Regions from separate parts of the Homo sapiens genome. Here region 1 is linked to region 2. Evidence: fine-mapped expression QTL. Tissue or cell type: subcutaneous fat. Region 2 holds a variant in brackets; the other region holds the start of a gene. All regions are shown on one strand. Distances are between the middles of the regions. Region 1 holds the start of WTAP (WT1 associated protein). Region 2 holds the start of ACAT2 (acetyl-CoA acetyltransferase 2).

Region 1 (15,812 bases), 33 kb before region 2:
CCCAGCTACTCAGGCTGCTGAGGTGGGAAAATCGCTTGAACCAAGGAGGCGGAGGTTGCAGTGAGCCGAGATCGGGAGAGGTGGCTTGTGCTTGTGGTCGCAGCTACTGGAGAGGCTGAGACAGGAGGATCACCTGGGCAAAGGAGGTGGAGTCTGCAGTGAGCCAAGATCATGCTACCTCACTCCAGCCTGGGCAACAGAGCAACACCCTTTCTCAAAAAAAAAAAAAAAAAAAAGTTGCAGGCTAAGTATTAGGCTGATGGCAAAGAAGTGGCCAATTCACTTAATCTAACTCAGTATTATGGTTTTTTCTTTTATTTTCTTTTTTTTTTTTGAGAGAGTCTTATTCTGTCCCCCAGGTTGGAGTGCAGTCACGCGATCTTGGCTCACTGCAACCTCCACCTCCCGGGTTCAAGAGAGTCTCCTGCCTCAGCCTCCCAAGTAGTTGGATTACAAATGTGTGCCACCATACCCGGCTAATTTTTGTATTTTTTAGCAGAGACAGGGTTTCACCATGTTGGCTAGGCTGGTCTCGAACTCCCGACCTCAAGTGATCTGCCTGCCTCGGTCTCCCAAAGTCCTGGGATTACAGGCATGAGACACCATGCCCAGCCTTGCTTTTTTTTTTTTTTGGTGGGGGGGACAGAGTCTCACTCCGTCTCCCAGGCTGGAGTGCAGTGGCACGATCTCAGCTCATTGCAACCTCTGCCTCCCGGGTTCAAGCGAATCTCCTGTCTCATCCTCCGGAGTAGCTGGGATTACAGACGCCCGCCACCACGCCCGGCTAATTTTTTTGTGTATATATAAATATATATTTTTTTAGCAAAGACAGAGTTTCACCATGTTGGCCAGGCTGGTCACGAATCTTGACCTCAAATGATCCGCCCACCTCGGCCTCCTAGAGTGCTGGGATTACAGGCGTAAGCCACCGTGCCCAGCCTGTATGTACTTTTTAATACAGTAATATGTAAATAACTGTGTGTGTATGGGAAAGCTGTTTTTCATTTCTCCAAAAACTGCACCAAGGCAAAGCAAAGCTCTAGTTGATTTCGGTGTGTTGTGCAGGAGTTAGCAGTACTGCCCTCACTAGGTACCCATTGGACAGTAGTGCAACCCCAAGAAAAGGATGGTAGTAAGTTAACTTTCATCACGCGTTGATATTTCATTTGAAATGGTGACTTGAAGCTGGTTAGATACTGAAACTGAGACTATAGTATGCCTAACTCAGCTGCTCAATAACTATTTATTGCTTATAGTCTTACGACTTTTTTTTTAGAATAATTATCTTTGCTAGTACTATCAGATTTGCATGACAACCCTTTCTCTTGTATTCTCTGTAAACTGGAGGTTGTCCCACTATTACTGATACTAAATTTGATGGTTTGGTTCAAATGGTGACCACCAGATGGCTCCACTATACAGGTGTATTTTCTTTACCTTTTTTTTTTTTTTTTTTTTTTTTTTTGAGACAGTGTCTTGTTGTGTCGCCCAGGCTGTAGTGCAATGGCGCGATCTCGGCTCAGTGCAACCTCTGCTCCTGGGTTCAAGTGATTCTCCTGCCTCAGCCTCCCAAGGAGCTGGGACTACAGGCACATGCCACTGCACCCGACTATTTTTTTTTTGTATTTTTATTTTTATTTAATTTTTATTTATTTATATTTTTTAATTTTTTTTTTGAGACGGAGTCTCGCTCTGTCACCCAGGCTGGAGTGCAATGGCACAATCTCAGCTCGCTGCAAGCTCTGCCTCCTGGGTTCATGCCATTCTCCTGCCTCAGCCTCCCGAGTAGCTGGGACCACTGGTGACCACCACCACGCCTGGCTAATTTTTTGTATTTTTAGTAGAGATGGGGTTTCACCATGTTAGCCAGGATGGTCTCAATCTCCTGACCTCGTGATCTGCCCGCCTCGGCCTCCCAAAGTGCTGGGATTACAGGCATGAGCCACCGTGCCCAGCCGTTTTATTTATTTATTTTTGAGACGGAGTTTTGCTCTCATTGCCCAGGCTGGAGTGCAATGGTGCGATCTTGGCTCACCACAACCTCCATCTCCTGGGTTCAAGCAATTCTCCTGCCTCAGCCTCCTGAGTAGCTGGGATTACAGGCATGTGCCACCATGCCCGGCTAATTTTGTATTTTTAGTAGAGACGGGGTTTCTCCACGTTGGTCAGGCTGGTCTCGAACTCCCAACCTCAGGTGATCTGCCTGCCTTGGCCTCCCAAAGTGCTGGGATTACAGGATTACAGGCATGAGCCACTGCGGCTGACCTTTTTTTTTTTTTTTTTTTTTTTTGTATTTTTAGTAGAGATGGGGTTTCACTATGTTGCCAGGTTGGTCTTGAACTCCTGACCTCATGATCTGCTAGCCTCGGCCTCCCAAAGTGCTGGGATTACAGGCGTAAGCCACCACACCCAGCCTGTAATTTCTTTTACAATTAGGTAAGTAGCCTGTAGAGTGATACTTTGATGGCATTTCCCAGCAATCTTTCATCTAAAGGTTTTGAAGTCCATTGATAGTCCTTGTCTGAGTCAATTATTTCATTAAGGTTTGCATCATGGTTATTGTCTAATTCTATATTTTATTTTATACTTATTAGCTGGCATCCTATAGTAAAGAAGAGTTTTTCCTCATCAACTGGGTATAAACCACATTCTTTATTAAAAAAAAAAAGAAAAAAAAAGCAGGGTAGGTTGGGAGCAGTGGCCCATGCCTGTACTCCCAGCGCTTTGGGAGGTTGAGGTGGGAGCATCACTTGAGCCCAGGAGTTCAAGACCAGCCTGGGCAACATAGCAAGACCCCATCTCTAAAAAAACAAAAAAGCAAGCAAAAACACTTAGCCAGGTATGGTGGCAGGCACCTGTAGTCCCAGCTTCTGACGAGGCACGAGGATCACTTGAGCCCAGGAGGTCAAGACTGCAGTGAGCCATGTTTGTGCCACTGCACTCCAGCCTGGATGACAGAGCAAGACTCTGTCTTAAAAACAAAAACAAATGAAACAAAAAACAAACAGGGTAAATGCTATCTCCCTTTAATAACTAATTTTCAGAGTATCAAATTGGTGTAATAGACACTACCAATGATGGAAAAATAGTTTCCCTCTTCTCATTCTCTCTTCTCTGTACTAGAGAGTAGACTTTTATTTATTCAGTATTTGCAATCAATTGTATTCATTTTCTTTTTGACGCTAAAATTGCCCTAAATTTGCCCCCTGGGAGATCCTTCAAGCTGGCTCCCATGTCTCTAAAATTTATTTTTGAGAGACTGAAAATACAAATGGTAAATGGCCAGAATATACATAAAAACAGAATTCTGACCCATTACCTACAACAACTAGCCCAGTAAACCAACCACTTATTTACCATAAGTGTACTCTCAGCCTGAAAGCCAAACCTGCTATCAACCAGACTTGTAGGAAGTCAGACTGCTATCTCTGGTAGCAATCCAGGAAGCTAAATAATAACTTCTATGACAATCAGCTCAAAATGGCCAGGACTTGATTAAAACTTGACAGCTTCCCTACTTTTTGTCCTCACTTCTAGCTTATGCCCATCCAGAGAAAGCCAAATATGCTCCTTTAACCAAGACCATAGGATGCCAACTTGTAGTTAGCTTCCAGCTTCCCCATGCCAACAGCTTCCAATCAGGCATACCTGTGAAACCTTTCCTTTTGTCCACTGTAAAGCTTTCCCACTCCTCTGCATGCCTTTGAACCTCTGCTAAAACATAAGGGATGGTGGCTGACTCCCTTGCTACAGCAAGTTCTCAATCGACTTTGCTTTTCTCATTTGGTTTGCAATAAAATGCATTCTTTACAGTGACACAATTTGATGAATTTTGACAAACGTATACATTCCCACTAACCATGACACAGAACATTTCCATCACCCCCAAAAGTTCTCCCATTTTCCTTTCCAGTCAATTCCTTCTCTCTTCCCCTCCTAACCAACCACTGATCTGCTATCTACCACTATGGATTAGTGTTGTTTGTTCTCCTAACTACAGTTGGCATAGCCTCATTGGTCTAAGCACTTCCTCTGCATTCAGGCACAACGAAATACCTGGCTCATCTTGTACCTTTCCCGTCCCAGAGCTGGAATCAGCCAGTTCTCCAAAGGAGCTCTGGATCTTTTTAGTGGGAAATGGAATTTAGAAACCAAGATCTCAGTGTCAGATGTGCTCACTGTTACTGTAGGGTGCCCATGCCTATACATCCTGGTTCAGCCAGGACTGTTCCAGTTTTAATCTGAAAGTCCAGCATCCAGAGAAAACCCCTCTGTTTGTGGCAAACTAGAACAACTGGTCACCCTAGTGCTTCTAGGCCCTTTCAGTCCACAGAACTAGGACTTTTTTTTGCAGTTGAAACTTTTTTTTCTTTTTGATAGGGTCTGTTGCCCAAGCTGTAGTGCACTGGTGAGATCACAGCTCATTGTAACTTTAAACTCCTGGGCTCATTTGGGCCTCTCGCCTCAGCCTCCCAAGTAGCTAGGACTATAGGCACAGGCCACCACCCCTGGCTATTTTATTATTTTGTATTTTGTAGAGACAAGATCTCACTGTGTTGCCCAGGCTGGTCTTGAACTCCTAAGCCACTTTGGCTTCCCAAAGCACTGGGATTACAGGTGTGTGCCACTGCACCCAGCCCTCCAGTTTAAACTCAATACTACAGACTTTTTTTTTCTGAACTTCTTAAAATTCTTTATATTAGTTTCCACCCCCACCCCCGGATGAATGAACGTCTTAAAAATTGTTTTAAATTTTTTAAAAAATGGAGACAGGGTCTTGCTATGTTGCCCAGGCTGGTCTCAAACTCCTGGACTCTAGTGATCCTCCCGCTTTGGCCTATCAAAGTGCTGGGATTACAGGCATCAGCCACCCGGCCCTTTTCTGAACTTCTTTGATCTTGTGTTTGTATCTCATTCTCTCACACACTGCACATCTTTGTATATAGTAACATTAAAATACTTATGTTATCCTACCATATACAGTACAGAGTTTTAAAACCACAGTAACAATGTTACCATTAATCATAAATCAGTGAAGCTGAAAGCTCCTGTGCACTTTTTTCATCCTTAGAATACACAGTTGACCCTTGAACAACACTGGTTTGGACTGCCAGGGTCCACCTATATGTGGATTTTTTTCACCCCAACACAGATGAAAAATACAGTGGGGCGAGGGACGGTGGCTCACACCTATAATCCCAGCATTTTGGGAGGCTAGGTGGGAGGATCACTTGAGCCCAGGAGTTCAAGACCAGCCTAGGCAACACAGCTCTCTACTGAAAATAGAAAAAAATTAGCTAGATGTGCTGGCACATGCCTGTGGTCCCAGCTACTCGGGAGGCTGAGATGGGAGGATTGCTTGAGCCCAGGAAGTCAAGGCTGTAGTGAGCCATGATCGTACCACTGCACTCCAGCCTGGACGACAGAGTCAGACCCTGTTCTCAAAAAAGAAAAAAAAAAAGAAAAGCAAGAGAAGGGAAGGAAGGGAGGGGGGAAGAGAGGGAGGGAGGGAAGAAGGGAGGGAAGAAGAGAGGGAGAGAAAGAAAAAAAGAAAAGAAAAAGAAAGGAAAGGGAAGGAAGGAAGAAAACAAAACAGAAGTACAGTGGGATGCAAAACACACCTACACAAAGAACCAACTTTCCCTATGCTCAGCTCCGGGACTTTAGTATGCAGATTTCTGTATATGCTCGCAGAAGGTCCTAAATCCAATCTCCTGCATATAAGGAAAGACTACACTATCACAACACAGATACACTACTAGAGTACTGTGTTCAAAAGCTCAGAGGGGCCAGTGGTGGTGGTTCATTCCTGTAATCCCAGCACTTTGGGAGGCCAACCTGCAGGCGGATCACCTGAGGTCAGGAGTTCCAGACCAGCCTGGCCAACATGGTGAAATCCCATCTCTATTAAAAATACAAAAATCAGCAGGGGATGGTGGCGCATGCCTGTAATCCCAGCTATTCAGGAGGCTGAGCTGAGAGAATCGCTTGAACCCAGGAGACAGAGGTTGCAGTGAGCTGAGATTGCACCACTGCACTCCAGCCTGGGCAACACAGTGAGACTGTCTCAAAAAAAAAAAAAAAAACCCAAAGAATAATTATTTTTTCTGTGTATCTTAGTTATATTAGTTAACAGTTAAGTTCATTTGTTTCAATTTGCTTTCAACCTTAGGATTTACTTTGTTTCCTTTTTTATTTACTTTTTTGGCTATGTAAAACTAAAAGTTCAAAGACAGAGAAATCTTGTCTCCACCCCCCACTCTTTATAGGCAACTAAAAATGTTAAGTTTCCAGGATATCCTTCCAATTCCTCCCCGAAAATAAGCATATACACATAAATATTCATATTAAATATAAATATATATTTTTATGTATTTAAGTAAATACATAAAAGCATATATGCTTATTTTTGCTTTTGAATACAGTGAATACTTACTACACTTAAATATTTAAGTGAATACTTAATACAACCTGAGACTCATTCCAAAGCAACACACGATTATTTCCTGAATCTTTTTAATGGTTGCATTGTGTTCTACTGTATGGATGCACCATTCCCAATCAGTTCCCTATTAACGGATATTTGGGTTATCCCTAACTTTTGCTATGACAAATAGCACTGCAATAACCTTGTATACCTATTGTTTCCATGTGTGGAGCTGCACCTTCAGAATAAGGTTAGGGTTAGAAGTATAACTGCAAGGTATAAGAATAAACACAAGTAATTTTGTACTCCGTGGAACTTGAACCATTTTTCCACTCCCACCAGGAAAGGTAATTTCAACGTGTATTTCCATTGTAAGTGAGGTGGAGCGACTTTCTATGTTTAAAGACCATTACGGTATTTTTTCTGAGAATCATCTGTTCATGTCCTTCCCCATTTTCTCCTTTGGCTTTTGCACTTTTTGTTTTCAATTTTTGAGAGCTCTTGTGATACGAGTTGCAAAGATTTTCTCCAGACCGATCTGATTCACTGGAAATATACTACGACCATCTGGAATGTACTTTAATCTTATCCTAATAAATCACCTTACTACAAGACACTCCTTTGGGGATGAACAGGTTTGATAAAGCCGGCTAAGGACAGACCAATCAAAAGAATTACGTGCTCTTCTAGTAAGTGTTTAGAGACTGTTTCACGTTCTCCAGGTAACACCGCCATTACTCGGCGGTCCAGATGGCAGTCTTACTTCAGGGAGTCTACTCCACTTGCAGGACCTCTTTGATTGAGTTCACTAAACCTCACAGGGCCGCCTTCCCCGTGTTCCAGTTAGCAAGGGGCCCTCAACGCCGCGGACACAGCGCAACCTCCGACGCCAGAGAACAATAGCTCCTCGATGCGTCTCCAGAGATGTCAAGGAGGAACGAACCCAGCGGCCAGGAGACTGCGCCTCACGACTGATGAGAGGGAAGGCATCGGTTTCTAAGTTCTCAAAACTTACAGGTGAGCTTCTGCTAAGAGTAAACGCCCGCGGCTCGCCGCCCACGGCCTCTCTCTTGAGGTGGCACCTGGTCCTCCGACACGCGGAAGCATCACGGATGAGCGTCACGAACACAGAGCGGCCAATCACGCGCCGCCTTCGCCCAGATCCCTCCGCACGAGGCAGCCCCGCAGCCGCAGGTGGCCCCGGCGAGTACTTCCACCTTCCCTTCCCGTGATGCCCTGGGGCTGACCTCCGACCTCGCTGGCCCGCCCCTCCCCTCGGCCGCTTCCCTTACTGAGCTTGCTGAGCTCCGGGGCCCGCGGAGCTCGCGCCAGGCTCCTGGGAAAGGACGGGGAGTGTTACCGGGGAGCAGCTGCTCCATTGTGCCTCGAGGCCCCGATCGGGCTAGGCCGACGGCCTCCCTCCCTTCACCTTTCCTCTCCTGGCGGGGTTCGGCGGCGGGCGAGTGACTGCGGCCACGCCTGAAAGGCGACTCTCCTGTGAGTGGGCCAGAAGGCGAACATGGCGGAGCGGGGAGGCTGGCGGGAGGCGGGAGGCGGGAGGCGGGAGGCAGTGGCGCTGGCCTGCGGCGCGTTCGGACCGGCTGTGGGGCGGGGCAGGGCGGAGCGGAGCCGTGCGGCGGGGCGGGGCCGGGCGGCGGGGCCTGGTTTCCTCCCTCAGCGCCATTTTGTGGCAGCGAGACCCACAAATAAAGGGGAGCGCAGGGGTTGCGGCGGGACTAGGAGCGCGGCGGGGCCGGCGGCAGAGCTGTCCGGCTGCGCGGTGGCCCGGGGGGCCCGGGCGGCAGGGCAAGCAGCGCGGCCTCGGCCTATGCGACCGGTGGCGCCGGCGCGGCTTCTGCCTGGAGAGGTAGGCGCGGGCCGGCTGGCGGGAGCGGACGCGGGGGACCTCCGGGGCCTGAGGGCTGATGCGCAGCCGCCCCCGGCGGGTAAGGGGCGGGCAGGGCCCGAAAGGCCACACGGGCCTGGTGCGGCACCGGTCTCTCGTGAGCCGCTCTACCTTCCCGCCTGCGGGGAACACTTCCGCCGCTTCGAGGCCATTTTATCTCTGTCCTCCGTCCCCAAGGCCCGGGTTGAGAGGGGTGCTCTGGCGGCCGGAGAGACCGGCCACTCACGGAGGCCGGAGGATGCCCTCCCCGGGCTGAGCGGCGGCGCTCGTTTTTTCCTCGCCTCGGGGTCGCCCCCTTCACCTCCCTTGGGCCTCTCCTGAGGACCTGGCGGCACTAACGAGTTCAGCAAGGAAAAAAAGAAACATTCGTTCCCTACATTTCATGTCACGCAGTAGGATGTTACTACGTTCTCTTGTAGACTTCCATTTTTAAATGAGTATAAGCATTCTGAGGAAAGAAACTGAATTATTGCAGATTTTTGTGAAATCCAAGTCTTACCTTGGATCCCTGTGAGACAGTTACTAGATTTTTTTTTCACCGTTTTTCATAAGTCTGTGTACACGTAATGGAAAAGCCCGAGTTCTTGTTTTGATAAGAAAGTCACTTGGTTGTTTGATCCCAAAGGATTAGCTTAACATTATCAAGGACTAGCATAACTGTGATTATGTAAAAAAAACAAAACAAAACAAAAAAACTATTATTTAGTCTGGTAGGGAAATACTTCTATGAGTATGTTACAATTGGAAGTTGTATTTGTGCCTATTTTATCTAGTTTTAGTTAATTCCATTGCTTCGGAAGATAAGTGGACGTCATAGATCCATCGCAAGTTCTCGTTTTTTGGATTTTAAAATTTTGACCATTAAGTTTTCTACGATAGATAAACATGTTGTGGACATTTAAAACCGTAATTTAAAACTATGAGCGAAAAATCTTTTCAAGATGGATACATTTTAATTCATTCAAGTAGCATCTGATTAGCCAAGTCGGGGAAAGATTGCAGTCCGCAAAGCTGGCTTGTGATAAGGTTGAGGTTACATTTTAAGGGTTTGGGTAGGTGTGTTTCTTACAGTGCTTTTATATGTTAAGGTATCTTAAGCAGACACATGGTTTAAAAGTTCAGTATTTTTAGTACTTTTTCATTGGCAGAATTTGGACAAGCTACCAGAATTGCTAACTCCTAAAGGATAAAAGTAATAATAATAGTGTGTCCCAGGCACTGCTTATTTTTACATGGCTCTTTTATGTCTAGCTTTTCCAATTCAACGTTGAGTCATGTTTGCTGAAAATATTTTTGTGTATTGTTTGTCAGAAATAAGCTGGTAGAGATGAAACACAATGTGTAAAAAGCCCTGTGATGTGGAGATGAGCATTGTCACAATTTGTACAGTACATTAAAGCGTTCAAGGTCTCTTATGGTCTTGTATGTAGTATTGAATCCCCTTGAATATATTGTTTAGCAGTTTTGATCATTATGTATTTGCTTCTTGCTCCTCAAAATTGTACGTTAGTTAGTAGGTCCTTCAGCAAAAGAAGACTGAAGATAGTATTTTGGTTTTATTCTTGTTTTTAATTTTTTTAGTTGTCTCCAACTTTTCTGCCTCTAAATATTTTGCTTCTTGTAGTTACTAAGCTTAACACAGAAAAACTTTTCAGTATCTCCACAATAGTAAACTTCATTGTGTATTGTGTATAACAAGATGTTCCATCTGACTAAAATATATTGCTGTAAATATTTTCTGCCTTTGAAGATGTAGTTAATAGAATTTAATCTTTTCTAAGTGCACATTGAAGTTGCCTTTTATGTTCATATTATGTTCATATTTTATTTGAAAAATCTATAGCATTTTTATTGTGCTGAAAGCATTAATATTTGCAGCACTTTGTGAGACAGGCAAAATTATCTTTTTGCTGACTTGGAAACTGCAAGAGTTAAAAGACTTGCTTGGAATCACACATGGCAGATAGAGGATAAGGAAAAGATGGCCTTTCAGTTCCTCATCAGTACCTTGCTACTACAGTGTCTGCAGATTGGTGTCTTACATTCAGCTATGATTTGTTCGCCAAGGTACCGTGTCTTCTTACTGAAGTTGTTTTGGCTGGCGCTTGCCTCCGTTCAGAGGGAACTGAGTTACCTAACTTTATGATGCTAAGAGCCAGGAAGGTACTGGGATCTGGGATGCTAGGCACCTAACCAGTCTAGACTGAACTCCATACTAAGCTGTTTTTCTGTGTTAAGGCATCAAGAGTAGATGGTGGTCCTGATTTTCTGAGATATATTATCTCTGAATTATCTACATAAATAACTGAAACTTTTATGTAATTTTAAAACTAGTCAATCATGTTACCACCCTTTTGAGGGGCACCAAATTTGAGACCCTTACCCCCAATTTATTAATTAATAGCTGTTTTAATCACCTAATAGCTGATCACCTAATGACTAACAGTCATTTTCATCCTGGAAAATGGGAACTAACTTTGACTTTGAAAAGTGCTGTTATTAAATGTGTGATTCATAAGAACTGAACATATTTTCTTTATTATTTTCCTTCAGGATTCAACTTTAATTGACTCCAAATGATGTTATGGTCATTCTGTTTTTCTGATACGAGAATAGATTGTTCTGAGAACCTAGAATATTCATTGCCTTTATGAATCTAGAATTGACTTTAAATTTAGGTTATTGTGTTTGTCATTTGCGCTAAAAAAAAAATTGCCCTGGGGAATACCAAACTTCTCGGTACATTCGTGTGGTGTGAAAGTCAAAATTGCCAATTAGGTTCTATTTTGACCAAATAGTTGAATGTTGTAGACAGTTGTAAATTTTGAACCTGTTCTAATTTGCCTTTTGCCAGATGGCGCATTTAACTTTGTGGCATATCATCGACTTTCAAGGAAAGATTTACTTTTCATCAGATTAAAGTTGAGGAAGGATTTTCTTTCTAAATACTGAGGCTCTGAATTTCCCAAGTTGGATACCCCAGACAGCTAGAGTGATCTTAAAAGTGACTCTGAGAGTTGACTTAGGAAGTGTAGACATTTATCCAAAATCTGTATTTACTCCTGACTTACATTACAAATACAGAGTTTTATTTTTAAAGAAAATTTCAATAAAAAGCACCATTTAATTAAAATCTACTCACCATCAAACTTTTTAAAAAGAACATAAGCCAATGTCAGGAGTTGGAGACCAGCCTGGCCAACATAGTGAAACGCTGTCTCTACTAGAAAAAAAAAAGAAATACAAAAATTAGCTGGGCATGGTGGTGCGTGCCTGTAGTTCCAGCTCCTTGGGAGGCTGAGGCAGTAGAATCGCTTGAACCCGGGAGGCGGAGGTTGCAGTGAGCCCAGATCATGCCCGTGCACTCCAGCCTGGGCAACAGAGAGAGACTACGTCTCAAAAAAAAGAAAAAAAGAAAAGAAATTTCAATAATTGCAGGCTGGGCATGGTGGCTCACAACTGTAGTCCCAGCACTTTTGGAGGCCCAAGCAGGAGGATTCCTGAGCCCAGGAGTTCAAGACCAGCCTGGGCAACATAGCAAGACCTCATCTCTACTACCAAGAAAAAAAAAACAAATTAGCTGGGCGTGGTGGTTCATGCCTGTGATCCCAGCTACAAAGGAGGCTGAGGCAAGAGGATCAGTTGAGCCCAAGAGATGGAGGCTGCAGTGAGCTGTGATCGAGTCACTGCACTCCAGCCTGGGCGACAGAGTGAGACTCTGTCTCAAAAAAAGAGAGGAAAAAAAGAAAATTTAAGTAACTTCTGTTTAGAATCCTAAATATTGGAGATGCCAAAGAATTCTGCAGTAAGTGTTAGAAACAGTCGGGAGGACAGTATGATTATTATCCTCAACCTGTGGATTATCTCTTCAGGTTTTTCAAGAAACACTGAGTCTGTGTTTTTGATGGGGAGAAGAAACTATTAATTAAATGCCCATTTTGTGCCAGTTACCATGCTAAAGATTAATGTCTGTCTTCAGAAATAGCACAGTATTTGGGCCCTGGTTGTGGTAATTCTTTTTGAGATGGGGAAACTGAGGTGCAGAGATTTTGCTACTTTTGTATTTGCAAAGTTGACAACCTGTTTCAGAATACCAAGGTTATCAGAACTTTCTTCATGTGTTTCTCAGTCCTTTTAATGCCCTTTAAAAACAGATTATCATCTCATTTTTTGCTAAGCTTACTGTTAATTTTATTTTAGTGGAATAAGAATATGGATACCTGTCTTTAAGAAGAGAGTAAGCAAGTAAACCTAGGGAAAGTATCAGGTTGTAGAACCACATACCGATGATCCTTGCCAAAATCCTGGCATAGGAATTTGAACCCTGGTGTATGAAAAGTCTGCCCTTTGCATACTCAGGTTTCGCATCCCGTGAATGCTGTATTTTTGATCCGAGTACTGTATTTTTTAATCTGAGTTTGATTGAAAAAAATCCAAATATAAATGGACCCATGCAGCTAAAACCTGGGTTGGTCAAGGACCAACTATAATAACTTTTATAAGCTGGAATTTATATTGAACAGCATCCATGATACTTTAGTATTACAACTAAAGTTGTACATACTGAGTAGGTAGGATGCCTTAGTAACTAGATAAAAGGTATACCACCTAGCCATAGTGATAAATATAGCTGTTTTCAAACTGTCATTCACAGATCTCTACCACAGTACCTGTTACGTGAAGTTCCTGGTTGGTTCTCAAAATTTTATGTTCGTATATACATAGATACAGATACTGATATACCGGTTAAATATGTACAGCTCAAATAGCTAAAATTGTCTTTAAGATTTTTTAAATTAAAAATATTATTGGCCGGGCGCAGTAGCTTACACCTGTAATCCCAACACTTTGGGAGGCCAAAGCAGGTGGATTACCTGAGGTGAGGAGTTCGAGACCAGCCTGGTCAACATGGTGAAACTAAAAATACAAAAATTAGCCGGGCGTGGTGGCAGGCACCTGTAATCTCAGCTACTCTGGAGGCTGAGGCAGGAGAATCGCTTGAATCCAGGCGGTGGAGGTTGCAGTGAGCCGAGATCGCGCCATTGCACTCCAGCCTGGGCAACAGAGACCGGGCGCAGGGGGAGGGGGAGTGTCTCTGTCTGCTTCTTTCTCTCTCTCTCTCTCTCTCTCTGTATATATATATAGTGTGTGTGTGTGTGTGTGTGTGTGTGTGTGTAAAATTGATATTTAGCTCCAGACAAATGGGAAATTACAAGGAAATGCCAGATTTGATATCTGGGTTCTAAGACTTTGCAGCCTAATGCATGTGTCATGCTAAAATAGAAGTAGTTAGACATGTGGAGTTAAATATGGTGATGGTTTCTGAGATGATTAAAATGACTGCCACCAGGTTAAGGTAGTTACAAAGCAGCTTTCTGTAATGGCAGCAGAGATAATAAACTGGGCAACAAGGGAGGAACCAATTTAAAGAAAAAAAGAATAATATACATTTTATATCATAGTAATATGGTTTATGTCTTCATAGGACAGAGTGACTTGCTCAGTGAAACAGACTGTATACAATTAGCTCAGAAACAAATACTGAGGTTTTTATCTGTTTGCTGTATCCCTTGAGAAAGATTAAAGAGGGAAGGCAGGGTGCAGTGGCTCACGCCTGTAATGCCAGCACTTTGGGAGGCCAAGGCAGTTGGATTGCTTGCGCCCAGGAGTTCGAGACCAGCCTGGGCAGCATGGCGAAACCCTGTCTCTACCAAAAAAAATTACAAAAAATTAACTGGGTGTGGTGGCACATGCCTGTAGTCCCAGGTACTCGGGAGGCTGAGGTGGGAGGATCACTTGAGCCTGGGAGGTCAAGATTGCAGTGAGCCATCATCGCACCACTGCACTGTGGTCTAGGTGACAGAGCGAGACTGTCTCAAAAAAAAAAAAAAGCCCAGCACGCTGGCTCATGCCTGTAGTCCCAGCACTTGGGAGGCTGAGGTGGGCAGATCACCTGAGGTCGGGATTTCCAGACCACCCTGACCAACATGGAGAAACCCCGTCTCTACTAAAAATACAAGGAAGTTAGCCGGGCGTGGTGGCGCATGCCTGTAATCCCAGCTACTTGGGAGGCTGAGGCAGGAGAATTGCTTGAACCCAGGAGGCGGAGGTTGCGGTGAGCCGAGATCGCGCCGTTGCACTCCACCCCGGGCAACAAGAGCGAAACTCCATCTCCAAAAAAAAAGATTAAACAGAGAAAGAAGCAAGCCAGTAATCTAAGATCAATTTATGATTTTTCCTCTAAATTCTGCTTTCTTCAACACAATTTACTTAATCTGAAAACCAGGGTTTAATAACAGTATGATTAGAATGTTTCATTTATAAAGTGGAGTTGAGATTGTACGTAGTATAAAACATGCTGTTGGAAGATTATCTCCTTTTGAGGAATCTCAAAATCAAGTGGGAGAAATCAAGTAGTCTTGGTGTGTGTGTGTTTTGTTTGTTTGTTTTAATGAGAGACAGGGTCTTACCACATTGCCCGGGCTCGGTTCAAACTCCTAGGCTCAAGCAGCTCTCCTGCCTCAGCCTCCCAAAGTGCTGGGATTACAAGTGTGAGCCACCACACCAGCCTCAAGTAGCTTTCGAGATGATGCCACAGCACTCCAGCCTGGCAACAGAGTGAGACTCCATCTCAAAAAAAAAAAAAAAAATTCAGTTTAACATACCAAGCTTTTGGTCAAATTTCTAGTAGTTTAGAATTTATAATAAGTATGGGTAATTAAAATAAACCATAAACACTTTAAAGTAAGGGAAGATTCATGAGTATACTATTAGAAATAATAACTAGGGCTGGGCGTGATCCTTCCACAGGTAGTTCTAGCTACTTGGGAGGCTGAGATGAGAGTATGACTTGAGCCCAAGAGTTCAAGACTAGCCTGGGCACTATGGTGGGTCCCCATCTCTTAAGAAAGAAAGAATAGGAAAAACTAAATTAGTATAAGAACTAATTACTTAATTTGTATAAGTTATGAATATGCCAAATGCAATTTAGATGCTTTTTCAAAAGAGCACTGGTACTCAGAACCCTGATTCAATTTTTTAATCCTCATAGAATTTTTATATAAAGATTTTATGTTTGTCAGGTTAGCTCTTCATGTCGTATACTTTTTTTTCCAACCTTGTATTTTAATGTGGTGTTTATGTTTATTACACATTTTTTCTTTGTCTTTTTTTTGTGTGTGGATTTGTAGTTTAATGAATAATACCTGCTATTAGCATTCGTTCTAAAAAACAGCATAATAAAGTGTTCCCTACTTGAATTCATTAACCTATCTTTGAAACAGGGTTAAGTGAATTTTGTATAATAAAGAAGCTAATTTTGAGATACAAAATATTTGGCATAAAATTAAATACTGTAGGAATATTTTTATTAAGGTGTGACATACATGTGTATGTGAGTTTTTGTTGTTTGTTTGTTTGAGATGGAGTCTCTGTTGCCCAGGCTGGAATGCAGTGGCGCGCCATCTCGGCTCACTGCAA
Region 2 (15,812 bases):
GTGCCTGGCTACTTTTTAAAAAATTTTTTGTAGAGTTGGAGTCTATGTTGCCCATGCTGGAGGACTTCCTGTTAAGGAAAATCCTTATTAAATGTTTTTCTAGCAAGAATAAATACTCTCATTCATTTTTATTTGTAGGTACTGATTTTCATAAATATTTGTGATTGATGTTGCATGTACCTTTTCAAGAACTTTTCTGATAAAGCGCTAGATTCCTTAGTGTAATAATACTGGTATAGCCAAGGTGTGTGTTAATTAACTGGCTCTGTTTCCATTTCAAATGATAATTTGAGATGAAAATAGATGGATTTCAGAATTGATTATTGATGTAATAGAAACAAGGTGTAGCTGTTTGGGCACTTTTTGTTTAGGGTTTATTTTTACTGCTGTGTTGGCAAAATACTGAAATGCAGAAGATGGATGTGTCCCAGAAAAGAAGATGGTAATTATGGGGAAGCATCTGCTGTGATATAGTTATGTTTGTATGTGTTACATCTATCACTGTAATAATTGTAAGCAAAGACAGAGAGTTTTGTCTTCATTTTGTGATGGATGGCTCTTTCCTTTGCAGCCAAACAGGGAAAAAGTTAATGGCGAAGTGTCGAATGCTTATCCAGGAGAATCAAGAGCTTGGAAGGCAGCTGTCCCAGGGACGTATTGCACAACTTGAAGCAGAGTTGGCTTTACAGAAGAAATACAGTGAGGAGCTTAAAAGCAGTCAGGATGGTAAGGGGTTTGTTTCTTTTTGGAACGTTGTCTCAACTTTGCATTGGCTTTTTAAAACTGCCAGTCATGAATATTATAGGTTAGATTCTGTACATTGTTAACCTCTGCCCTATGATTGTATATTATTGTGAGTGAAGCATTTTTAGTTGAGTCCGCAAACAAAGCCATATAATTTTAGTTTGTTTATCCCCACCCTCCTAATTCTTTATTGTTCAAAATTTCTTACATTTTTGTTTTTAGTTGGGGGTAGGATTTGGTAAAAGATAAAAGGGTGTTGTATTACTTAACAAGATGGACAAATTTGTATTCATTGTTTGAAAGGGAGAATAAGCATTTCTCGTTAAGTGTAAATCTTAGAAACATGGGCAGTTTTCAGCGATCTGAAAGTAATAAAGTTGATTGTATCTGTGAAGGTTTTATTAGTGAATAAGAGATTTAATCTTTAAATTTGCTGAGATAAAACTTGTCAGCCTCCATCCTTTTTAGTGCAAGTGTAGCTGTATCTCTGTTTCTCTTCTTTGTAAGGTGCATTATTAATAAGGAAAATATCCAAATTCTTTGAAATTTTAAATTGAAAATTAGTGTCTCTGGTTAATTGCAAAGATGATCAGTAGCCAAGTAATTTCTTCTGAACTACCTACCTTTTCAAAATCTTCAGGAATTATTTCCTGTGACTTTTGTCCTTTTATATGTAACAGTCCTTGGTTGAGAACATGGGCCTCTTTGGAGTGTTATAGAGGACCACACTATCCTTAAGGATCAGACTTGCTATGGAACTAAGGCACTGGATCAGGAATAAGGGGATTGGCCATAGTGGGCCCATAGGTAAACGTGAGTCAAACTTTGGGGCTGTAATCAGGCATATGGCAAGATGGATCAAAACAATTTTAACTTGGTTGCTTAATACAGTTGCCCTCGGTATCCATGGTGGATTGGTGTCAGGACCTCCCACAGTAAGCCCCTCATATAAAATGATGTCATATTTACATATAAACCTATGTACATCTTCCCCTTTGAGCCATCTCTAGATTAACAGTACCTAATACAATATAAATGCTAGGAAAATAGTTATTTTACTGTATTGTTTGGGGGATAATGACAAGAAAAAAAATCTGTACATGTTCAGTATAGACCCAGTTTTTTCTTCCTTGAATATTTTCCTTCTACAGTTGCTTGAATTCATTGTTGCATGTGGAGGGCCAACTGTATATTATTTTAAGTATCTGACTTCCCCCAAAACAAACTCAGTCATATTTTAAGATTCCAAGCAAAATTTTTAAATGTAGTGTGATTTTAGAATTGTATTTGTTTACTTGAGCGTTTATTGACTCCCTTGCTTTGTGGCAGGCACTAAAGAAACATTTTTCAATGTTATAAACGATATTAAAGTTGGTCTGACTCTCCTTTGCACAGAACTGAATGACTTCATCATCCAGCTTGATGAAGAAGTAGAGGGTATGCAGAGTACCATTCTAGTTCTGCAGCAGCAGCTGAAGGAGACACGCCAGCAGTTGGCTCAGTACCAGCAGCAGCAGTCTCAGGCCTCTGCCCCAAGTACCAGCAGGACTACAGCTTCTGAACCTGTAGAACAGTCAGAGGCCACAAGTAAAGACTGCAGTCGTCTGACAAACGGACCAAGTAATGGTAGCTCCTCCCGCCAGAGGACGTCTGGGTCTGGATTTCACAGGGAGGGCAACACAACCGAAGATGACTTTCCTTCTTCTCCAGGGAATGGTAATAAGTCCTCCAACAGCTCAGAGGAGAGAACTGGCAGAGGAGGTAGTGGTTACGTAAATCAACTCAGTGCGGGGTATGAAAGTGTAGACTCTCCCACGGGCAGTGAAAACTCTCTCACACACCAATCAAATGACACAGACTCCAGTCATGACCCTCAAGAGGAGAAAGCAGTGAGTGGGAAAGGTAATCGAACTGTGGGTTCCCGCCACGTTCAGAATGGCTTGGACTCAAGTGTAAATGTACAGGGTTCAGTTTTGTAATATTTTTTCAGCAAATTTTTATACAGTGTCATTTAATTTGGGAGAGGATACTGTCCAGAAAATTAATGCATACTTTTGTCACAATTTGCCTTTTTGTGGGTGTACGTTTTGGTTTTTTTTTGTTGTTTTTTTTCTTTGTTTTTTTTTTCTTTTCTTTTTTTTTTTTTTTTTTTTTTTTTGCTTCAATACTTCTGCCGCTTTGGAAATTGTAACAGTTAATTACTTTGAATGTTGCTAAAAGGACATTTTGTGTAGGGTCAAGTTATTTTTATATGAGTTAATGTGAAATTGTAAATGGAAATTTTTCCTTAAAATACAACACAATGATGTCTGTATAAATCTGTCTGTTTAGAATCTGTGCTGTGTAAGGGCATTCGTACTCATGCTGTTACTGTACTTATGCACCATTCAGACTTGTTAGAGTAGATGTGGGTTTATGACTGCCAAGTTTGCCCAGTACAGTAGTTTTTTATCACTAAAAGTTGGACTCATTGATGGAGTCCTGTAGTAGTTTCAGTGTTAGATACAGTTTTTTCCACCATACATCTGTGCATTTTCTCTTTAGGTGACTGTTTAAGAAATTTGTGTGCATAGTTACTCAGTTTTTATGAACTGTTGTATCCTGTTAATGCATATTGCTCTGTGACTCCAGTATATCTTACCTGTACTGACCAAACCTAAATAAAGATTTTTATTGTAACTCCTTAATTAGCTTTTTTGTTTTGTTTTGGGTGTATGTTTAGCATTTGTCATTTTCATTGAGTCATTGAATTTCTACTCATTATCCTTCAAGTACCACAACAGTCAAACTTAAGACCAAGCATCGATTACGATTTTGCACACAATTTTTAATTTATGCCTTATTTTGCAAAACGGAGCTGGAGTTTAGGGCTACACTTAAAATTTTTTCTTGACTTATAATTGTTACAAAATATTTTAAAATACAGAAAAGTATAAAGAAAATAGTCATCTATTTCTTAGGCTTTTTTTTTTTTTTTTTTTTTAATTGAGACAGGGTCTTGCTTTGTCACTTAGGCTCAAGTGCAGTGGTGCAGTCATGGCTCACTGCAGCCTCAAAGTCCTCGACTCAAGTGATCCTCCCACTTCAGGCTTCCGAGTACCTGAGACTATAGGCATATACTACCACACCCAGCTACATTTATTTTAATTTTAGTAGAGACAAGGCCTCGCTATGTTGCACAGGCTGGCCTCAAACTCCTGGCCCCAAGGGATCCTTCTGCCTTGGCTTCCCAACGTGTTGGGATTGCAGGAGTGAGCTACAGCTCCTGGCCCTTTTTGAGTTTTAATTGAAAAGCAGCGTTGGTTTTTTGTGACCTGATTTCAAGTAGAGTATCTTTGTAGTTAGTGATGTTTGTTTTAAAACGCTGGCCAGCACTACTGATTTTTACTAACAACATATCTGGTAATATTATATGAGTAAGGGGTGTTAGAATGTAGGTAGGAGAAAATGTTTTTAAGGTGGAAGAATGTCAAAATTTGCTCCATTTTCTCAGAGGTAATTAAGTATAAAAGTATGATATTGAATGGCCTTCAAATGTGTAGCTTTCATATATGGTTGAAATGAAATTCCATTTCTGTTAAAAGCAAAGTATTGTTTTAGACATAACTTGTAATACAATCAAGGAACCTTGGGAGTGGAGTTATAATACTCGAAAACTGAGGTACAACTTATTTGAAAGTAATTGCTGCTTTTGCTTGTTTAGCTGATACAGGTATATCCGGTCTTCAGCAGTATGTTAAATACTGCACTGTCTCTTGATTAACCTTTTCTTTTTTTTCTTTTTCTCTTTTTTTTTTTTGCCGAGAGTCTCGCTCTGCCACCCAGGCTGGAGTGCAGTGGCACCATCGTGGCTCACTGCAACCTCCACCTCCCGGATTCAAGTAATTCTCCTGCCTCAGACTCCTGAGTAGCTGGGATTACAGGCGTGCGCCACCATGCCCGGCTTATTTTTGTATTTTTAGAAGAGATGAGGTTTCACTGTGTTGGCCAGGCTGGTCTCGAACTCCTGACCTTGTGATCCACCCACCTCGGCCTCCCAAAGTGCTGGGATTACAGGTGTGAGCCACCGCGCCCAACCTTGATTAACCTTTTCTACAGTCTGCTCAAGTGAGTAAAAAATCCTATACGATTTTTAATTTGCATGTGATTAAACATTTTGGTGTTTGATATATCAGATACTGTGTTTGGCTTTTGTTATGTACATCCTTCAACTTGACCAATTTAAACAAAAATGTAATTTCTCTGTCCTGTTGGTGTAATGTAATCAAGAGTTTGTGATAGGAAATTAATTTTTCAACCAGTGATACAATTTTATGACTGAATTTAATATGGACCTGTTAATGTGACATTTTCATGTTTCTGTTGAGTCTGCCTTGATGAATAACTCAGAGCACTTATTCTGTGGTACACAGAGTCAGTATTTCTCATTTCTGGAATTGGATGCTTTATTTTCTGGTATGCCTGTGATAAGAGAGGTGATAGAGTGGCTTCTGCATCTAATTGGTTTGAATCCTGGTATTACACTTAACTGATTTGGGCAAATGTATCCTCGAGGCTCGATATTTTGTTTTGTTTTTCTCCCCTGTAAGAGCACTCACTGCTGTCTTAGCTTGGGCTGCTGTGAAAAAAAAAAAAAACCACAGACTGGGTGGCTTTACACGCGCATTCCTCACTGTTTTTGGAGGCTGGGAAGTCTAAAGATCACAGTGCCCCCTGATTGGTGCCCCAGTTTGGTTCCTGGTAGTCCTCATACAGAGAGCGCAATAGATGTCAGTTTCCTTGGCTCCTCAGGTGTATTGGATACAACTGACTACTCCAGTTTTTGAGACACTTTTGCAAAACAATGTAAAGCCATTCCTTCTGACAACTTACTTTCTCAGATGTTCCCTCTTTCATGAGTAGTTATGCCCTGTACTCAAATCATTGCCTGCTGCTCTACGTCACTGTCTTGGGAGTTCACCTATCCCTGTGGTTATAGTGAACACTTTCATAATCCCAGGTAATGTCATTAACTGATCTGGACCCATCATGGGGTGGCTGTGCTGAGGGAGTGTTGAGCTAGCCCCTAGTGGTAAGGAGTACACTGCTGACCTTCATCCTATGGCAATTCCACTTTGGTGATTCACTGTTCCCCTCATGGAGACCAAGGAGGAATTTGCTGCATGGTAGGTTGGTGAATCCAGCCTGTAGCAAAGACCTGGCTTGGACTCCTGCAACTCTTTATGAAACTTAACCAAGAATGATTGCATCTTCCAGCGGGGGAAGATGCTGAGAAGGCCCCTTCAGGATAAACTGGCTCCATAGCACTGCTGTAATGATGGCTCCTCATGAGTAAGCACTTGGAGATTTTTGTGGCTTCCTGCCCACTCACCCTGCTCACCAGTCCAGGTAGTTTATGATTTGAGATCTAGATGTAATTTTATTTTATTTCTTTTTTTTTTTTTGAGATGGAGTTTCGCTCTTGTTGCCCAGGCTGGAGTACAATGGTGCAATCTCGGCCCACCACAACCTCCGCCTCCCAGGTTCAAGCAATTCTCCTGCCTCAGCCTCCCTAGTAGCTGGGATTTACAGGCATGTGGCACCACGCCCAGCTAATTTTGTATTTTAGTAGAGACAGAGTTTCTGCATGTTGGTCAGGCAGGTCTTGAACTCCCGACCTCAGGTGATCTGCCCGCCTCGGCCTCCCAAAGTGCTGGGATTACAGGCATGAGCCACCGCGGCCGGCCAAGACATAATTTTAAAAATTATCTTCCAGCTGGCCGGGCGCGGTGGCTCACGCCTGTAATCCCAGCACTTTGGGAGGCCGAGGTGGGCGGATCACAAGGTCAGGAGTTCGAGATCAGCCTGACTAACATGGTGAAACCCCGTCTTTACTAAAAATATAAAAATTAGCTGGGCATGATGGCACGGGCCTGTAATCCCAGCTACTCAGGACTCTGAGGCAGAAGAATCGCTTGAACCCGGGAGGTGGAGGTTGTGGTGAGCCGAGATAGCGCCACTGCACTCCAGCCTGGGTGACAGAGCGAGCTCCGTCTCAAAAAAAAAAAAAAAATTCCTCTTCTTTCCTTCATTCATTATTCTTAGTCTCTGTCTGTCTCATATGAGTAGATAATCATATGAGTAGCTATAATGAGGACTCCTCAGGGGACAGATTCTGTTTGGCCACTCAGCAGAAGCATGCAATTACCTTCTCAAGATTGGCTCCTAAACTTACTCTAGATAGAGCCTTCAGGCAGGAAACTCTATATCCCTTGGCTCCAGAAGAATATATTCATACTCATTCAAATGTGCTAGGCACTGGCCATAAAGAATATTGGTGTTCATTCATAACTGCCTATAATGTGCTAGGAGCTGTGCATAAAGCAGTGTAACAGGATCATCTTGGAAAGCTTATGTAGTCAGTAGAGGAGACAGATAAACTAGGAATTACATGGTAAGTTGAAAGAGGAAGTTAGGGGTAAGATGCTGCACCAAATGCAGGAGATTGGAAGGTTTTTCTGGAAGAAGTGATGTTTAGGGGGAGTTTCAGAGGTAAATTTCTGGTTTGGTTAACAGAAGATAGTTTCACTGCTCACTGAGATTACAGAAGAAACAGGCTGGAAGAGTTTGGTTTCAATATGTCAAATTTGATGTGCTTATAGGAAATTTTATTTATTTGAGACAGTTTCTCTCTGTCGCTCAGGCTGGAGTGCAGTGGTGTGATCTCGGCTCACTGAAACCTCTGCCTCCTAGGTTCAAGCGATTTTCCCATGTCAGCCTCCCCAGTAGCTGGGATTACAGGCGCACGGCACCACGCCCGGCTAATTTTTCTATTTTATGGTAGAAACGGGATATCACCATGTTGGCCAGGCTGGTGTCAAACTGCTGACCTCAAATGATCCGCCCTCCTCGGCCTCCCAAAGTGCTGGGATTACAGGTGTGAGCCAAGGTGCCCGACCTGATGTGCTTGTAAGAATTTAAATGAAGAGGGTCAGTCAGCTTAGGAGACGAGGTTAGATGTAAGGATTTCAGACTTGTCAGTATACAGGTGGTGATTGATGCCGTAGGAATGACTGGTATTACCCAGGGAGCTGGTGCAAAGTAGGAGCCTTGGGGAACATGTTAAGGGGATGTGAGAGTAAGCCCACAAAGACTCAGAAGTGGCCAGGGAGTAAGGGGAAAATGGGATAGAATAGAGCAAAAGCCACGGGAGGCATTCCTTGAATTCCTTGGACTCAGATATGTTAGGGGACAGGAAACACATTGAAGACAACTGAAGAGACTTCAGTGTGCTGCTGAGTTCTTAGCAGAGTAGACAGCTGATTTCACCACTATTCCAGACCCTAAAGATTTCTCCTGAAATTGCACTGTTATGCAATTTTTTTCCTTCTCTATTGCCCCACCTCTGGGGCCTACACTCTTTACCTTCTCTGATTTATCTGACCCATCCGCATATCTCTGCAAAGTCTTAATGTAGGTTTCCAGGATTTAATGATTCTTTCAATCAACTTTAAAGTTCTTCAGGAAGATTCTCCAGGTCCGTCAACAGTTTTCCCCTTCATGACTTTGTGACAAAGCTTTCTTGTTCCACTATCCAGGTGTTCCCAACAAGTTGCTGTAACGGTGGCCCCTCATAAGCTTGCCTGGAAACCCTAGAAAGCTCAGAAAAATTATGAACTTTGCCCAGTAAGAGGCTGGGAAGTCAGAAAGGGTTTTAAACAAAACTGACCCCACTTGTTACATGCTCCTTTCACTGTCCAAACGTCAACCAAAGGAACTTTTGTGACGCTAAGACGCTCCCGGCGTCCTCACCCGTTCACAGCCAGAGTTGATCTTAGAAGGCAGGGGGCTCGCACCGAGACGCTCCTAGCAAGCCCCTCACGCGAGCGAATGACTGGCGCCAGGAGAAACGCATAGGACCTCCCGAAGCCGCCGAGAGCAAAAGGACCCATCAGAGCTGTGCTGAGACCCGCCGCGGGCCGGGCTCGCACTCGAGATTCTCGCCCGTGGGATTCCAGTCCTGAGCTGAACGAGAGATAAGTCTTTGTCACCCCCCAGTCTTTACTGTTTCGAGAAACCCTAAGATTTTTTAAAAAAAAGCCCAAGACGTCAAGTCGGGGAACTCCAACATTGGGGTGTCCAGAAACACTGG[G/C]GTTTCAGGCGCTCTGTAAATGCGTCCGAGGTCCGCGGTTCTGCCCGCAAGCCCAGACCCCGGCCTCACTTCCGCCCCGCGCCCCGCGCCCCGGCCTCACTTCCGCCCCGCGCCCCGCGCCCCGCGCCCCGCGCGCCTCCGCCCGCCCCTGCTCCGGCCTTGCGCCTGCGCACAGTGGGATGCGCGGGGAGGTGGTGCGCGGGGAGGTGGAGGGCGAGGGGCGGGGCTACCTCAGGTCCCGCCCGCGGCAGGCCTGTGGGCTGCGAGGAGGAGCTTTGCCTAGCTTGCAGGCAGCGCAGGGCAGACGGCGGCAGGAGAAGCAAGATGAATGCAGGCTCAGATCCTGTGGTCATCGTCTCGGCGGCGCGGACCATCATAGGTGAGTGGCCGGCGGGAGCCGCGCAGAGTCCGAGGCGCCTGCTGCTTCGGCAGGAGCGCCGAGGGCCGGACTTGTGTAGGAGAGGGGCGTATGTGGAGGAAGCCGGTCAGGCCAAGCCGCGAGGAGCCGCGGGATCCCTGGAACCCTGCGGCTCCCGCGTTCCCTGACCTGGTGCTACAGCCCCACCCTCTCCTCTCCCGATGTGCGCACTCCGTCCCTCGTGCTTGGATTGGCTCCCGGGGTAGAGCCATCGCGTGGCCTGCCTCTCCCATTGGTTGGCGTAGGGAGGTGTTCTCCTCCGGGGCCCCTGATTGGCCGGCTCCGGGAGGCGCCATCGGTAATGCCTGCGGCAGGGGCGGAACTGCTAGGTGGTCTGAGCCCGGCTTTGGGCTGGGGTCGGGCTGTCACACAATGGCTAGAAGTCGTGACTTCGTCTCCTTCGTGCCGCATGGTTTTCAACGCCCTTGACCCGCCGGTTCCTTTTGTTTGGGAAGCATGGGGTCGCATCCAGTCCTTCGGATTTGGGGAAATAGAAGGGCTACAGCGGCGTCCCTAGGCCGTTCTGGAGGTCGCCTGTCCAGCCCTCGGCTGCTGCGAGTTGTGGCACCCACCTTGACCTTTGCTCAGACCAGCAGGTGTAGGAACGTGTGGGAGGAGAGGGCACTGCCTCCTCGCGTGGCCTTGCCAAACAGGGTCATGAGGCTCCCCTGCTCGTAGGTGGTTCCCGTATTACCCGCAGGCTTGTGATGTCCACGCTCTCCGCCTTTCTATTGTAGGTTCCTTCAATGGTGCCTTAGCTGCTGTTCCTGTCCAGGACCTGGGCTCCACTGTCATCAAAGAAGTCTTGAAGAGGGCCACTGTGGCTCCGGAAGATGTGTCTGAGGTCATCTTTGGACATGTCTTGGCAGCAGGTAAGTCTCAGTGATTCCAGGAGAAGTCAGGCTTATTAGAAACAGCCCATAAACACACACACACACACACACTCTCACACACTCACACACTCTCTCACTCACTCAAGTTCTTGCCTCCTTGCTTTTGCTCAGAGTTCCCTCTGTTATGATTCCTCCTGTTGGCCCCCTTCTTCCAGCCCTGTCAGTAGCTTCTATCCAGCTTGAGACTCAGCTTCTTGGCCAGGCAGGGTGGCTCCCGCCTGTAATCCCAGCACTTTGGGAGGCGGAGGAGGAAGGATCACTTGAGTCCAGAAGTTTGAGACTAGCCTGGGCAACAAAGCAAGACCCCGTCTCTACAAAAAATAAAATAGCCAGGTATGATGGCCTGTGCCTCCCAGCTACTGGAGAGGCTGAGGTGGGAGGATCACTTGAGCCCAGGAGTTTGAGACTGCAGTGATTGTGTCACTGCACTCCGTCATGGGTGACAGAGTGAGACCCCTTCTCTAAACAAACAAAAAGACTTAGCTTCATTAATATGCTTTTTGTGAATGAACTTAGACCACTGACCTACACCACCTACACTGCCTTTTCTTTTCCTTTTTTTTTTTTTTTTTTTTTTTTTTTTGAGACGGAGTCTCTCTCTGTGGCCCAGGCTGGAGTGCAGTGGCGTGATCTCGGCTCACTGCAAGCTCCGTCTCCCGGTTTCACGCCATTCTCCTGCCTCAGCCTCCCGAGTAGCTGGGACTACAGGCGGCCCACTGCCTTTTCATTCTTACGAAGCAGGGCCGGCCGGGCCCGGTGGCTCACGCCTGTAATCCCAGCACTCTGGGAGGCCGAGGTGGGCGGATCATGAGGTCAGGAGATCAAGACCATCCTGGCTGACACGGTGAAACCCCGTTTCTACTAAAAATACAAAAAATTAGCCGGGTGTGGTGGCGGGCGCCTGTATTCCCAGCTACTTGGGAGGCTGAGACAGGAGAATGGCGTGAACCCGGGAGGCGGAGCTTGCAGTGAGCTGAGATTGTGCCACTGCACTCCATTCAGCCTGGGCAACAGAGTGAGACTCCTTTTAAAAAGAAGAAGAAGAAGCAGCAGCAGGGCCAGCCTGACGCATAGGAAAGTATGCCTGCTCCTCCTTACTACCTCAAAGTGTCACTCATTCAACAAAAATGTATTCAGTTCCTCCTATGTGCCCCATACTGTGCTTAGTGCTGGGAGTATGGTTCCAACAATACAGGTAAGTTCCCTGCCCTCTTAGGGCTCAGTTCTGAGCTTGGAAAATAGGTGCCACATCATGCCCCTTGCAAATGGGGCATATCACTCCCCAGAGGAATATAGCTGAGTCCTGAGAGTGCCCCCATCTTCTGATTCTTTGGGTTTGAACACTCGTAATTAATTAATTAATTATTATTATTATTATTTAAAGAGACAGGGTCTCACTCTGTTGTCCAGGCTGGAATGCAGTGGTGTAATCAATCGTAGCCCACTATAACCTCAAACTCCTGGGCTCCACGGTATCCTCCCACCTCAGCCTCTGGAGTAGCTGGGATTACAGGAGCAGGCCACCACACCTGGCTAATTTTTTAAATTTTTTTGTAGAAGTGGAGTCTGTCTGTTGCCTGGGCGTGAGTGCAATGGCTGTTCACAGGCACAATCATGGTGCACCATGCCCTTGAACTTCTGAGCTAGCTGGGACTACCGGTGCATGTCTACTAAGTTTAAGGCTTTTAAAGCACTGTGCTAAATGCTTTCCTTTCATTACCTCATTTAATCTTCCTCACAAGTCTGTTATATCCTATTATCTTCATTTTACAAATGAATAAATGAGAGTTTAAGAGGTTAAATGACTTACCAGGGTCACAGTTTGAAGTGGAGCTAGCACTTGAACTTAGATCTGTCCTATTCCTTGAGCCAGATACCTTCTACAATCATGTAACAAATGTTTATTGAGCACCTACTTTGTGCCAGGCACTATTTTAGCAGCTGGAGATAAGCAATGTTCATATCAGATAGAAATTCTCATTCTCATGAAGCTCGTAGTATGCTAAATGCTAGCATTATTAATTGTGTTAGCACCTCATTTCTTTCTTTTTCTTTTTTTGAGATGGAGTCCCACTCTGTTGCCCAGGCTGGAGTGCAGTGACGCAATCTTGGCTCACTGCAACCTCTGCCTCCCGGGTTCCAGTGATTCTTCTGCCTCAGCCTCCCAAGTGACTGGGATTACAGGTGCCTGCCACTGTGCCCAGCTAATTTTTGTATTTTTAGTAGAGATGGGGTTTCAACATGTTGGCCAGGCTGGTCTCGAACTTCTGACCTCAAGTTATCCACCCGCCTCGGCCTCCCAAAGTGCTGGGATTACAGGCATGAGCCACCATGCCCAGCCCTGTACCTCATTTCTTCTTTTTCTTTTTTTTGAGATGGAGTCTCACTCTGTCGCCCAGGCTGGTGGAGTGCAGCCGTACAATCTCGGCTCACTGCAACCTCTGTCTCAGGTTCAAGCAATTCTCCTGCCTCAACCTCCTGAGTAGCTGGGATTACAGGCGTGCACCACCATGCCCAGCTAATTTTTGTATTTTTAGTAGAGAGGGGGGGTTTCACCATATTGTCCAGGCTGGTCTCAAACTCCTGACCTCAAGTAATGCGCCCCCCTCCCCCGGCCTCCCAAAGTGCTGGGATTACAGGTGTGAGCCACTGCTCACAGCCTGAGGCACCGCACTGGGCCTGTCTTTTTAATATGTATATGATCCTGCATATGTTTTCAGTCTCAAGTAACCTTACCCGTTTTTAGTTTCCAGCCTAATCCCAGATTGATAACATTGTGATGAATATAATCTCTAAGTTTTTATCAGCGACTTATTTGCTAGTTCTTCCCCACAAACTCTCCAAGGAAGGGTGGTAGGTTTGAGTATATCTGAAACTGGGAATAGAGTAACCACTTTATAAACATTTACCATTGACTCTGATAACAGACAATGGCGATTGAGAATATTTGAAACTTTTAACTCCATTCTCTTCTGTGCTACTTTAAGTAAATTATGTATTTCTTCCCAACTAAAGGAAGTCCCATAGTTGAATTATGAAAAGATATTTGTGTTTCAGTACTCAGAATGAGAAAAAAAGGTATTTGTGAATTCTGAGTTTGTATATATTTTGTTATATAACCATTTAAGCATAGTGTAATGAATACTAAGCAAGAACAGAACTGCTTATTATCAAAGGTTTTCCTTTTTAAGTAACCCTTTTTCTTCTCAAGTGTCTTAAGCCATGATCTTGGGAGCAAATGGCCCTAGTTAGAAACACTGATAATGCCTAGGTTATATCCTGTGTTTATTAGACATAGGTTTGATAATGCTTATTTAAGCACCCCCCCGCACTTTTTTTTTTTTGAGACGGAGTTTCGCCCTTGTTGCCCAGGCTGGAGTGTAATGGTGTGATCTCAGCTCACCGCAACCTCCGCTTCCCAGGTTCAAGCAATTCTCCTGCCTCAGCCTCCCTAGTAACTAGGATTACACTCATGCGCCACCACGCCTAGCTAATTTTGTATTTTTAGTACAGACAGAGTTTCTCCATGTTGGTCAGGCTGGTCTCAAACTCCCGACCTCAGGTGATCTGCCCTCCTTGGCCTCCCAAAGTGCTGGGATTACAGGCATGAGCCACCGCGCCCAACTATTTAAGCCATATCAAAAGATGAGGATGACACTTCTTTCTTAATGTATTAATGACTTATTTATGGAGGAGAAAGCTTATATCTATGAAATACCTACAGAGCAGCACAAGGCAGTATATATTCAAGGGCTAGACTGTGACAGGTGGAGAGTGTATACAGGCCTTTTTGCCTCCAGTGGGCACTTACTTGACCTGTAGGCTTTCAGAAGTGGCAGGTAACCCAACTGGCAATTTTCCACACACTTTCACTGTGACATTTTGTCTTTCTCCTTGATTGCTAAGAGTCCTCTGTGTTCCTCTTTCTAGGCTGTGGGCAGAATCCTGTTAGACAAGCCAGTGTGGGTGCAGGAATTCCCTACTCTGTTCCAGCATGGAGCTGCCAGATGATCTGTGGGTCAGGCCTAAAAGCTGTGTGCCTTGCAGTCCAGTCAATAGGGATAGGAGACTCCAGCATTGTGGTTGCAGGAGGCATGGAAAATATGAGCAAGGTAAGGCCTCTCTGATGAGGTGGCTTTCACTGACCTCACACTGAGAAACTCATGTCTATGCCAGAACAGAGTAAACAGATGCATAGCAGAGCTGGAACCAAACAGTGAACAAATAAACAGAAATGACAACCTTGATCCCTACTTGAATGTGAAGTATTCTTCAGTTTGGGTGGGAAATCCGGGTTGATAAGAAGTTTATCAACCAGTGTGATTGGAACCGAATATACTTTTTCTAAACTATTAATGAAGCATGTAATATTTTCTGAATTAAATTCATATTAGTTGCTTGATGTCCTTGGTTTTAAATTTCTTTCCCATTGTGAGTAAAAGGCAAAAAACAGATGTTGCCACTTACCTTCCTGCACATGACAAGGAGATCCTGGGGACCAGACTTTTTGACCTTTTCAGGGTATAGAACATGTAAAAGAGGACCACCAAGTGGTGCCCTTCTCCAGTAGGTTTGCCAGGCATGATTTGTTTCACCAAGTTCCATACCTCAAACTGGCATAGTGGTTGAAAGAAAAACTATACCCCCTGCTTCCTACTGATGCAGCTCAGGGGCTGAGGTGCAGATTCCCTAGATAGAAGCTGATTCAGCCCAGCCATTGCTGAGGTTCAGGAGGAGGCAGGCTAAAGGTAACAAAAATAATCGGAGTGATTTTGATGGGATGATACTGACATCTGTGTAGTACTTTACCAGGTGCTTTTGTACATGTGTTCACAACAGCCCCATATAGGGTAGATGATACCATTCCCAGTTTACAGGTAAGGAAACTGAGGACCAGAGCCAGCATTCAAATACAACTCTTCCGACTCTAAGTCCAATCAATGACTCTTTCCATTCTAATATACCTGCTGTTGAGTTGGTGAGAGTTAAGACTGGCCGCTACTCAGAAATCCCTCCCCATCATTTAGTTAGCCTGATTATTCTCACTGTAGACATTATGTCATCCATTGAAATAGGTAACACATTGTTAGCTTTACTTAAGCCCTTAGAGGATTTCTTCATTTAACAGATAATTAATTGCCTCGATGGAAAGAATAAATGGAATTCTTAAGGAAACAGGACACAGAATGGGTAGGTTTGAGGGAGAATTGAAAATGGGTAGGTAGGAGAGTAATCGTTCCCAACAATAGGAAAGATGAAGTCTGCTAATTCCAGGGGTCTTTAGACCTTGGCCTGGCTGAGGACCTAGAACTGGGGAGAAGGGCTGCAAAGGGGCCTAGATGAAGACTTAGGAAATACTAGATAGTTTTGAGTTGTATTCTGGGGAGAAGACTAATTGCAACTAAGCCTAAATCCATTTTTATTTCTGACTTCTAGGCTCCTCACTTGGCTTACTTGAGAACAGGAGTAAAGATAGGTGAGATGCCACTGACTGACAGTATACTCTGTGATGGTCTTACAGATGCATTTCACAACTGTCATATGGGTATTACAGGTAAGGCAGACATGGCTGAAACTGTATTAGCTTTAAAAAGGTTAAAAAGACCATATACTAATCTGCTTCTTA

The links.
Region 1: WTAP starts here. The variant in region 2 is fine-mapped to the expression of WTAP in subcutaneous fat (TwinsUK, PIP 0.95).

What each region holds. Positions count from the first base shown.
Region 1 is chr6:159,719,410-159,735,221 of GRCh38, forward strand. WTAP (WT1 associated protein) reads left to right here and starts at 8,097. Exons shown (of 8, transcript NM_001270531.2): 1 at 8,097-8,294. It also overlaps a transcript of SOD2 not described here and the pseudogene RNU4ATAC18P. RefSeq lists enhancers at 7,308-7,905, 7,386-7,475, 7,826-7,955, 7,906-8,503 and silencers at 7,966-8,515, 14,279-14,539.
Region 2 is chr6:159,752,889-159,768,700 of GRCh38, forward strand. It overlaps ACAT2 (acetyl-CoA acetyltransferase 2), which reads left to right and starts at 9,157. Exons shown (of 9, transcript NM_005891.3): 1 at 9,157-9,254; 2 at 10,031-10,165; 3 at 14,117-14,298; 4 at 15,623-15,740. The coding sequence starts at 9,200. SOD2-OT1 (SOD2 overlapping transcript 1) reads right to left here and starts at 9,444. Exons shown (of 2, transcript NR_037166.1): 1 at 9,106-9,444; 2 at 7,370-8,748. It overlaps WTAP (WT1 associated protein), which reads left to right. Exons shown (of 8, transcript NM_001270531.2): 7 at 572-726; 8 at 2,140-3,431. The coding sequence ends at 2,723. It also overlaps a transcript of SOD2 not described here. RefSeq lists enhancers at 8,410-8,469, 10,538-11,038 and silencers at 8,900-8,959, 8,980-9,129. The variant G/C (reference allele first, on the strand shown) is at 8,876.